3 linked regions of the Homo sapiens genome follow. The protein of the gene in region 1 purifies or fractionates together with the protein of each later gene. This does not show direct contact. Each region holds a gene or a part of one and is shown in the gene's direction. Other genes may lie near its edges. The genes, in order: SLC2A6, OPALIN and TMEM106B.

Region 1 (3,753 bases):
AGAAAAAAAATACATTTTAAAAAAAGAGAAGGCCGGGTGCGGTGACTCACGCCTGTAATCCCAGCACTTTGTGAGGCTGAAGCGGAAGGATCACAAGGTCAGGAGTTCAAGACCAAGCTGGCCAACATGGTGAAACCCCGTCTCCACTAAAAATACAAAAATTAGCCGGGCGTGGTGGCACATGCCTGTAATCCCAGCTACTTGGGAGGCTGAGGCAGGAGAATCGCTTGAACTCGGGAGGTGGAAGTTGCAGTAAGCTGAGATCGTGCCACTGCACTCCAGCCTGGCCAACAGAGCGAGACTCCGTCTCAAAAAAAAAAAAAAAAATACACATATAGATATGTAAAAATACATACACATATATATGTATATACGTATATATATGGCCACGAGGACTGTGCAGCCTGATCACCATACCAGGGTGTGCCTGAGTCCAAAGCCTATGATCTTGATGGCAAGAAAACGGTGACGTAAAGGGGCTGCACAGTTTAATGGGGGCCCCAATAGCAAATATGCAAAATAGGCACATGAGGAAAAGACTGGAAGAGGCTAAAACGCCATCAAGGTCAGGCTGACGGGAGATGGATGTGATTTTATTGTTCTATTATGGTTGTATTTCAATCATAATAAAAGGGAATTCTAACTTTTAAAAATGCTTTACCATGTTAATAGCTAAAATGGGAAATGACCCAAATACTCAGCAACAAAGGCTCCGTTTAAAAGCGTGTGTGGCACGTCCATCCAACAGAGCAGGGCGTGATTCCGTCCTCTTCCCGAAAAGGCCCAAAGGGAGAGGTGGAACTGCTGTGGGATTTTTTGAGGACGGTCTTCCCGGGAATTTTCCATTTCTGCTTTTCTTATTTTTCAATGTTATCTTACTACCTGGGTTACGTGTCACGAGCTCAGGTTATTTCTACCACCAGAGCCTGGGGTGGAGGATACAGACCTCGCCCACTGGAGCTGCCCACAGCGCCTCGCCGGCCCCTCCTGCCTCCTTCGTCCCGCACATCCGCTGCTGCCCTGACACACCCCGATTCCCTGGTGCCAGGGAGAGCCAGGGCAGAGGTGGCCCTGAGACGCCACGCGACGGGGAGGGCTAGAGCGTAAGGAGGAGCGAGGTGCGCATTCGCTGTGACCCTGGCGCTCGGCTTCGCCTCTCTGGGCCTCGGTTTCCACCCCGCGGGAGCGAGTACGACAGGGGCTGCGCGCATTGCCGCAGTCACGCCTGCAAGAGCCGGGCCGGGTGAGCCGCTTCCGGCGCTCCGCGGGGGCCCCGGACGATCCAGCAGGGGCTCCGCCCTGGGACCCCCATCCTGTCTTGGGGCGTGACCTTCGGGGGCGCACGCGGTGCCGGCCGCGCCCGGGGAAGCCGGGTCCGCATCCGAGCATCAGGACAGCCTGCGGCCGCCCCATTGGCCGGCGTGTCTCTGCAGGGCCGTCCCACAGCCAATAGCGGCCAAGGGGCGGAGCCTGGCCGGTGCCCTCGGAGCTGCTGGCCCCGGGCGGCTGCTCCAGTCTGAGCGCCCTCCGCTCGCCCCGAGAGAGACCCGGCCATGCAGGAGCCGCTGCTGGGAGCCGAGGGCCCGGACTACGACACCTTCCCCGAGAAGCCGCCCCCGTCGCCAGGGGACAGGGCGCGGGTCGGGTGAGAGTCGCTAGGTTGGGGGCTGCGGGTGGGGCCTGGGGGTGGCCCTGGTTCCCTCCAGCCGGCGGCAGGCTCCCGCCCTGGGCCTCCCCTGACCTAGTCGCCACCGAGGGGCCATCTGGCTCCCTCCTGTCCCAGACACGCTACTCCTATTTAAGGAACTGGTCCCCCTAAGGGAAGGAACGATCCACGAGAGTACCGGGCCCAGCCCCCCACTGCCACAGACAGTGAGACTGAGGCCCCAGCGAGCAGGGGTTCTGCCTGAGGTCACACAGCAAGCCTCCAGCCGCCGCCCTGGGGGCAGAACCAGAGCCTCCTCTTCCGGAGAAAAGGCCCCAGCACCAGAGGCTCAGCCACTGCGGATGAGCTAACAATGGCCTGGGAATTTCCCAGGGGAGCTGGGGCTCAGGCCCTGGGAACGTGAATGGCCTTGGACCCAGGCCTCCCTAGCACTGCCCGCTGAGCCGGGCAGCCACTGGGTTCAGAAAAGGCAATGGTCCCTGGAGGAGGGACTCAGAGACCCTGGTCTTTTTGTCCGCCACCATCACCAGGACCCTGCAGAACAAAAGGGTGTTCCTGGCCACCTTCGCCGCAGTGCTCGGCAATTTCAGCTTTGGGTATGCCCTGGTCTACACATCCCCTGTCATCCCAGCCCTGGAGCGCTCCTTGGATCCTGACCTGCATCTGACCAAATCCCAGGCATCCTGGTTTGGGGTAAGGACCATCCTCTGGAGGAGGGTGGGTGCAGGAAGGAGGGACCTGCTGAGCCTTATCTCCAGCTAGGAACCTCCCAAATTCTCCACCTTGGGGGTCCCTCCAGGGCCCTGGTCCCCCCTCCCCCAGCCATCCAGGCCACTAGTGGGTGGGGTAAAGCTACAGGATTCCTCTGAAATGAGGAACTGAAAGCCAGTGGAGAGGGTGAGGGAAGGAGCAGGTGGGGAGGTGGCTGTCAGGGTCTATACTAGGTGGGGCTGAGGCTTCCCCGGGTCCCCACACCCACAGTTGGCTGGATGGGGGCAAGGGTATCAGGTGTCAGTGGGGAGAGGCACTGGCTGGGGCAAGGAGAGTCCGCAGGACAGATTGTGGGCTGATGGAGAGGAAGATCCCAGAGTCCCAGAGTCTAAAATTATAATCTTAATAGCCTCATATGTAGAGTTGTTAACATAGTAGTTAAGATAAAAATTCCCAAGGTTTACTGAGCACTTCCTATGTGCCAGGCATGTGTTGGGCACTGAACGTTCATTGATTCTCAGGGCCAACGCCACGAGGTAGAACTTGCGCTCTCCCCATAAGACAGCTGAAGAAACTGAGGTGCAGACAGGCTGGGCAATGTGCCCAGGTCCCACTACCAGTTAGCAGAGTCCAGAGGGGGTCCCAGTTGCTGCTGTACAGGGAACTTAAGAACCTCCAAATCTTAAAGCCCAGTACCTTCAAGTCACAGAATTCTCCTGTATTAAAATATTAGACATTTAAACATCAGGCTGGACAGAACCACTGTGGATATGTGGCGCAGCACCTCTTCCTTAGAGCAGAATTCCCCGTTTGGGCATCCCTAACAAATGGCTGTTCCTTGAAGACAGGAGGCTCCCTGTTTCAAGTGCTTGACTTGGCCAAGTGCTTGACCAGCTCCTGGGGTCGGCCTAGGGAAGAAGCTGTCCCTGGACTCTGATGAGATTGGGGTGCCAAGTGCCCAGACATATCTGCCCTGCACCCCCTTCCCCTGCAGTCCGTGTTCACCCTGGGAGCAGCGGCCGGAGGCCTGAGTGCCATGATCCTCAACGACCTCCTGGGCCGGAAGCTGAGCATCATGTTCTCAGCTGTGCCGTCGGCGGCCGGCTATGCGCTCATGGCGGGTGCGCACGGCCTCTGGATGCTGCTGCTCGGAAGGACGCTGACGGGCTTCGCCGGGGGGCTCACAGCTGCCTGCATCCCGGTAAGGCCAGGCCTTCCCACCCAGGCGCCCCAATGCCTCTGTATTGGTGCTGAGCCTCCATCTGACTAAGGCCTCCCAGCCTCCATGCCTTCTGGGCAATGAGAATTGTTTGCCTTCCCTGCGGATGCCCAGGGCGCCTCAGCTCACCCCCAGCAGGGCAGCTAATTTGGGGGAA
Region 2 (3,653 bases), on another chromosome or scaffold:
GTGATTAGGTCAAAGGACAACCATTTAAGTACCAAGTTTCAGTGCCTGGTCATCAAAACCTTCTTTTGATGGGAGCTCTCTGGGAAAGAGGTCTGGGCTTGGAAGTCAAACATCCAAGTTCAGATTAGAGTTATGATTATCTGTGAAACCTTGGACAAGCCCCATAACTTCTCTGAGATCTATTACATTTTTTTTTTGTAAAATGGAGTTAATAATTGTCAAAAGTCCAAGCCCCAGGACTCCAGTATACTTGATGAGATTGCTGAGAGTATTAAATAAATAACAGATCTGGACAGAGCTTTGCAAAGTGTAAAGGGCTGACAAGAGTTCATAGTTCTGCTCCTCATTCAATCCTCCTAATAACCCTAGAGGCAGCTACTACTATCCCTGTAGATATTGTGTAGATAGAGACATGCAACCCCTTAGCTTGTAAATTGAGAAATGGCTGTTCTATGGCAGGCAGTGTGAGCCCAGGACCTGTGCTCTTAATCCCACAGCATACCACTTAGTGTAGTTTACATAGTTTCTCATGCAGAACTTTATTCCTTTAGATTTCCTAATCAAGGTAAACTCTTGCCTGAAATATCTTATAAATGAGTGAAATCCAATAACTCATTGGACCAATAACTCAGTGGACCAGAAACATGTAATGCATTCATTTCATGTAGAATTATCCCCAGGAGCATGGATATTTGACAACTTCTGCCATTTGTTTCATCACATACTTGAAAACAAGCAAGGCTTCCTTAAAGAGCCTTGCTTCCACCAGTATTTATATGTGTTTCCCTTCTAGCAATGGGGACAAGTAGGCCCAAAGTGTGCCAGGTGTGCTGACTAGGGACAGGAGGAAGCCCTTTTGAGTTGTAAAATGTGTCACGGTACATCCACAGGGTGAATAATGAAGACATTGCCTGAATTTCCTAATTCTTTTCTCCTTGTAGCCAAATTTTATTCCAATTCTTACCTGGGAAGCAATCAAGTTAGGTTCTGTTTGGTAGTTGTTAACAGAAAGTTTAGCAAAGGGATAAACTTTAGGCTTTATAGCCTAAACTTTGGCAGATTGTCTTGTATAATGTATATTCTATAGACTTTTTGTTCTTTTACAATATATGTTCTTTTTCCATACAGACGTCCTCTCCTGTCACAGGTGGGAAAGAAACGGTAACTATATCACTTAAATTTATAAAATGGGGATAATAATAATGCTCCATCCATCTTGAGCATTTGTTTTGAGCTTTAAAGTTTGATAGGTGAACTGTCACTAAGCACAGAATCTGGCTCAAGAATTATTCTTGACCAGCTCCGCTCAAAAGTGAGGGAGAACATGCAAAATCACAGATGGATTTCACAAAGGGTTGAGCAAAAGAAGCCAGACACAAAGAGTGCATATCTTATATTTGCATCTATATTATGCTGAAAAACAGACAAAACTACTCTATGGCAATAGATTTCAGAATAGTGGTCACGCACAAGGAGGCTGGAAGAGATTTGAGGGGGATCCTGAGATACTGCTAATGTTCTGTTTCTTGATCTGGGTGTTGGTCTTATGGGTGTATTCCTCATGTGAAAAGTCATCCACTTATATATTTGTGATTCATATACTTTATTATTCTTCAATAAAATCAATTTCCCCCTAAAGTGAAGTGAAGGTGAATCCATTATTAAATAACAGTTGCACTTTTATAGGGTTTCTGCAGATTATCTTCAATATTTCCAGATAGTCTGCAAATCTGAAAACTTATGTAACTAAAAGCATGACTATTTCCACTCCGATCAAAGCAAAATGGGAATTTGAAAATTAATAGGTTAATGCATTTATTGCAAATAAATTTTTTTTGAAAGGCTAAATGTCACTTTTTTATTTATTTATTTTTATTATACTTTAAGTTCTAGGGTACATGTGCACAACGTGCAGGTTTGTTACATATGTATACATGTGCCACGTTGGTGTGCTGCACCCATTAACTCGTCATTTACATTAAGTGCAAATAAATTTTTTTAATTCATATTAAAATAGTGTGGTATGGCTGGGCATGGTGGCTCAAACCTGTAATCCCAGCACTTTGGGAGGCCAAGGCAGGCAGATCATGAGGTCAGGAGTTAGAGACCAGCCTGGCCAACATAGTGAAACCCCATCTCTACTAAAAATACAAAAATTAGCTGGGTGTGGTGGCATGCACCTGTAGTCCCAGCTACTCAGGAGGCTGAGGCAGAAGAATCGTTTGAATCCAGGAGGCGGAGGTTGCAGTGAGCCAAGACTGTGCCATTGCACTCCAGCCTGGGCAACAGAGCAAGACTCCATCTCAAACAAAAAAAAAAGTGTGGTGTATAATAAAAGCTTTTATTTTTAGCCAAACAGGTGAAAATGACATCTAATTGTTGCTCTGAATTGTATCTCAGCTTTTCCTACATTGAAGAGACATTTGTATTTCTGTTCTAAAGAATACCTGTTCATATCCTTTGCCCATTTTTCTACTTGATCATTACTCTTTCCAACAGATTTAAACTGTGTAAATTAAGTCCTATGAAAGTAAGTCATTTGTCATGTGTGTTACAAACATTTTTGCACAGTATTTCATTACCCTTTTGATTTTGTATATGACGTTTATGATCCATGCAGATTTTTTGTTTTATTTTTATTCTATTGAATTTTTCCTTTATTATTGAAGACTCTGGGCTTCCTCTGACCCTGTGTTTTTCATTCTGTGCCAGGACTGTGGGCCCTCTCTTGGATTAGCGGCGGGCATACCATTGCTGGTGGCCACAGCCCTGCTGGTGGCTTTACTATTTACTTTGATTCACCGAAGAAGAAGCAGCATTGAGGCCATGGAGGTGATTACTAGCTTCTTTGGGTCCAGATGTATAGGCAGCCACCAGTATTTCAGTGAACTGGCTTTTGGACTAAGGGTGTCAGAATTCAGGGCCCATGTCTATTTCCTGAGGACAAGATGCTGGAAGTTTCTGGGCCATAATTTCCACTGCAGACATGACATTAGGCACCAGACAGAGCTGATTTGTCATAAAACCTTCAGGTCAGTTGAGGAATTCCTGACAAAGATGGTATTTGGGGTAACAAAAAGTAGCAGTGGAGAAGGATGTCTGTTGCCATGGCAAACACATGTCTGTACAGTGGGTGTGCTTTCTAAAGTTGAGAAACAAAAGCGCACAAGCTTCACAAAGAAAGGATGGAGATAACGTTAAGAAAGATAGGAGATGAAGAGGGGCTGAGGTGTCCATGATAGACACCATGATAGAATCACAAGGGAATCTATATCCTCCCCATCCAATCCACCCCTCCAATGCCAGACTGTTCTGGGGACTATGCTTAGAAATCAAAAGCCACCTAGACTCATATCCAACAAGGTTCCATGGTTGTGACACAACTGTGTCATGTGGACTCTGGGTTCTAATTCTATTCTCTATTTATTGACATTCAAGGTTGTTATCATATGGGTAAACATTAATTAAGAGATTGAAAATTGAGGTTCTAAACCTGACTCTGCCACTTTATGATTTATATGATCCTGGACAAGTGACTTAACATTTAATATGTCTTGGTTAGTTCAACTCCAAAATAGGAGTCATAGAAACTACCCTCCCTATTTTAAGAGGTAGGGAAAGTTATAAGGATGAAATGAGATAATGGATGATGA
Region 3 (3,653 bases), on another chromosome or scaffold:
ATTGAGACAAAAGGAAACATTATTCTAACTGTATATGAAGTTGGTGACACTAACAAAACTGAAATAATTATTTTAAGTGACTTGAAAACATTGTGCTGTGACTATAAATGTCGGGAGTTGTGTTCCAAATGGCAAAGAGAATCACAACAAATTTTAAACTGTACTTAATAGTTGCATTATTAGGAGTACCTTTGATGTAGTTTGGAAATTTTATACTTAAATAAGTTATTATGTAAATGCCTTAGGGAGCAAGAGTTTTAGCAATAAGACCAAAGAGATACAAAATCAAAGAAATTGAATTTTCCACTTTTGACCCAAATAGAATAATGCCTGAAATACCCCACCTGAAATCACTGTAAAACTGGACAAATATAGTAAACAATATTTTCAGACATTGGACATCAGCCAGCACAGGGCAGTGATTCCTGAGAAAGCAAAAACAAAGGAGATAAGCCCTATGATTGCACCAGCAAGCCCTGTGATTGTACCAGCTTACTGTCTGAGAAAGGTTCCAGCCTGCAGCACAAGGAAGGAACCAACCCAGGCAGAGCTCAGTGGTCTTCCTCAATGGAGATGGAACTGGGTGTCCAGAAAGCCAAAATGACTAGAGTTAGCAGGGCAGAGTACCAGAAGGTAGAGAGCTGGAGAGGGTGCTCTTAAGCCTGCAGCTGTGTCCTGATCAACATATATGTGTGAGGAACATACCTGAGGCTGAGGAAAGACCACCCAATAGGAGCAGAGAGAATAGTCCTCAGAGCTCACACAAGGCCAAGAACAGTTGTTGTTTCTCAATTTGTAATAAAATTATAATATTTTGGGAACAACTTTGGGTCTTTATTTCTTTACAAATTGAGTGATTTGTAAGATTATTAGAAAATTATATTTATCAATTGCTTTTGTCTGTATACTTTAGCTATGTCATTTAATCCTCAAACATGGATTTTAAAGAGGAAGAAAAGTAAATTGCATTAAATACTGCAGGTAGGAAATGGCAAAAATGGAATTCTAACTTGATTGCAGATATACCACACAACTTTCATAACTTCATTAGCACCTTATAACTCCCAGGATTTGGTTGCTATCACTAGAGCCATAAGAAAAATCATTACTAGTTAATTTTGTAATGGAGACATATATTTTGTCAGTAAACTAGCCAACTTTTCAATTTGGAATGAAATACTAGATGGAATGTTGTTTTATTGTCCCACCAGGTTCAGTAATGTTCGTTATGGCTACAAACGTGGTATACAGAGTAATTTAGAACATGATTCATTTATTCACAACTAGGACTGACTTATAAGCCCTAAGGACTAGATTATGATGGATTCACCCGCCCATAAGTAATTAAAAATAAAACGCTGAAGTGTAGAAAATCCAACAAAGTTCAGATTTTATTATGATGATGTTAAACACTTCTTATGCCTTTTTATGTATTTTGGTGTGTTATAGATACTATAAACGTGTTTAAATTTCCTATTAGGTAATCCAGTGGGGATCACTACCCCTACTCAGGTTGAGAGAGTCCAAAATGAGTGAGTGGGAACTGTTTTGATTGCTCAAGACAACAGCATGGACTTAGTAGCAGTGACTTAGCAAATTTGTGTTTGCTTGTATTATTTTGTTTTTTAATAAACCAGTTTGCTCTGTTCTTAACTTGGGCAACTTAAAACACTAAGAAATATTTATAAAATATCTGCAGGAGGCACTTTAATTGCTCTTGTAATACATACAAAGATTAAATCCATCAGAGCATTTAGAAAGGAAATGGTGGCGGAGAGTGGAAGAAACAATAAAATGGAAAATTTTTGTATAAGTAGATTGTAAGGAAAATAAGTAATTGTCATGCAAGACTCAAAAACAAAAAAAGGATGTTGTGGGCATCCAATAGAGGACTTGTATGTTAGAGAGAACAGGAAATAGTTATTTGAACTCTGGTTTTGAGGTTAACCTTGAAAAGAGGAAGTTTTTACCTACAAATTTTTCCTTGTCTTATACCTGCATGAAATATCTTTTCTTGATTAGAAAAAGAAATGTAACAACACCTTCAAAGCAGAGTTGATCAATGTAAAAAAAATCTTAAAAACTGAGTATGTAAGTACTTTGAGATGAGAATACTCAAAAAAAGACTAATTATAGTAAGAATCATTGATGAGCCATGTGGTTGTGTCATTTTTTTTTAATTTTAAAAATATGGAGGATGTGCAGGTTTGTTACATAGGTAAATGTGTGCCATGGTGGTTTATTGTACCCATCAACCCATCCCCTAGGTATTAAGCTCAGCATGATTAGCTATTTTTCCTAATGCTCTCCCTTCCCCATCATTATTATTTCTAAGATGGTTCTGATGAGCAGTCACTTTAGGGGATCATGTAATGGCAAAACTTAACATGTGAAAATTCTGCTTCAGTGAATTCAGAGGGAGTTTTGAAATGTGCGTTTGTATGAAGCTCCTCAGCTTGAATCTAATGTGAAAACTGCTCTGGCAGTCAAAAAAGTAAATGTTCTATTGTTTTTAAGCCCAAAATTTCAGTGTCCAAAAATGTGATTCCTTTTTTTTTTTTTTTTGGTACAGAGTCTCGCTCTCTCGTCCAGGCAGGAGTGCGGTGGTGCGATCTCAGTTCACTCCAACCTCTGCCTCCCGGGTTCAAACTATTCTCCTGCCTCAGCCTCCTGAGTAGCTGGGATTACAGGCGCACACCACCACACCTGGCTAATTTTTGTGTTTTTAGTAGAGATGGTTTTTCACTGTGTTGGTCAGGCTGGTCTCGAACTCCTGACCTCTTGATACGCCCGCCTCAGCCTCTCAAAGTGCTGGGATTACAGGCGTGAGCCACCGCATCCCGCCGATTTCATCTTTTAAAGAGAACATCTTAACACTTAATAGACTCAGACTCAACCATACCCAATACTTTCAGATGTGAAAATTTGGTAACATTTAGCATCTTATATATGTTGCTGCTGATATATGGGGGAAATTGAACATACCTTCTCTAATGTTGTGTTATATAATTTCTGATGCACATGTACTTAAATACCCTCTTTTCCTTTTCAGAAAGCTGTATGTGATGGCTTCTGTGTTTGTCTGTCTACTCCTTTCTGGATTGGCTGTGTTTTTCCTTTTCCCTCGCTCTATCGACGTGAAATACATTGGTGTAAAATCAGCCTATGTCAGTTATGATGTTCAGAAGCGTACAATTTATTTAAATATCACAGTGAGTATAAATTTATATGAAAAATGTTTAACTTCATTCTTTTATCCTATTAAGCAGCACCTTTGTCCCCATTGAGAAGAGATGTTTGTTAAATGTGACACTGGTCAGTGTGCTTTCTGTATGTCTTTTCTGTATTGACGTTCTCTACCATTTCTGGTTCTGCTAAAAATAGCAATAATAAATACTGGCAATTCTGTATATACAGAATGATTTAGCATTTGAAAATGTCTTTAGGAGGGTAAAATAAACTAAAAAAAGAAAAAAGGTATTACAATTTACTTTTCAGCATATGACTCTGAATAACTTCTAGCAAAGTGTTGACATAGTTGATTTGATAGATTTTATAAATGTAACATTTTGATTTCATTGTATTTGGGAAATACAGTTTTTGCCACGTTTAATAGACCATTCCTTTATCAGCTTTAAAGATGAAATACAGGT

What was found.
Region 2: the proteins of SLC2A6 (region 1) and OPALIN purify together in Homo sapiens (co-immunoprecipitation; one large-scale study listed by IntAct). This does not show direct contact.
Region 3: the proteins of SLC2A6 (region 1) and TMEM106B purify together in Homo sapiens (affinity purification with mass spectrometry; one large-scale study listed by BioGRID and IntAct). This does not show direct contact.

The regions. Positions count from the first base shown.
Region 1 is NC_000009.12:133,476,860-133,480,612, reverse strand, and holds the start of SLC2A6 (solute carrier family 2, facilitated glucose transporter member 6), read left to right. Parts: upstream 1-1,513; 5' UTR 1,514-1,553; coding exon 1,554-1,645; intron 1,646-2,196; coding exon 2,197-2,359; intron 2,360-3,371; coding exon 3,372-3,578; intron 3,579-3,753. UniProt on the Homo sapiens protein: Probable sugar transporter that acts as a regulator of glycolysis in macrophages. Does not transport glucose.
Region 2 is NC_000010.11:96,348,886-96,352,538, reverse strand, and holds part of OPALIN (opalin), read left to right. Parts: intron 1-1,128; coding exon 1,129-1,161; intron 1,162-2,712; coding exon 2,713-2,832; intron 2,833-3,653. UniProt on the Homo sapiens protein: Central nervous system-specific myelin protein that increase myelin genes expression during oligodendrocyte differentiation. Promotes oligodendrocyte terminal differentiation.
Region 3 is NC_000007.14:12,221,174-12,224,826, forward strand, and holds part of TMEM106B (transmembrane protein 106B), read left to right. Parts: intron 1-3,052; coding exon 3,053-3,212; intron 3,213-3,653. UniProt on the Homo sapiens protein: In neurons, involved in the transport of late endosomes/lysosomes. May be involved in dendrite morphogenesis and maintenance by regulating lysosomal trafficking.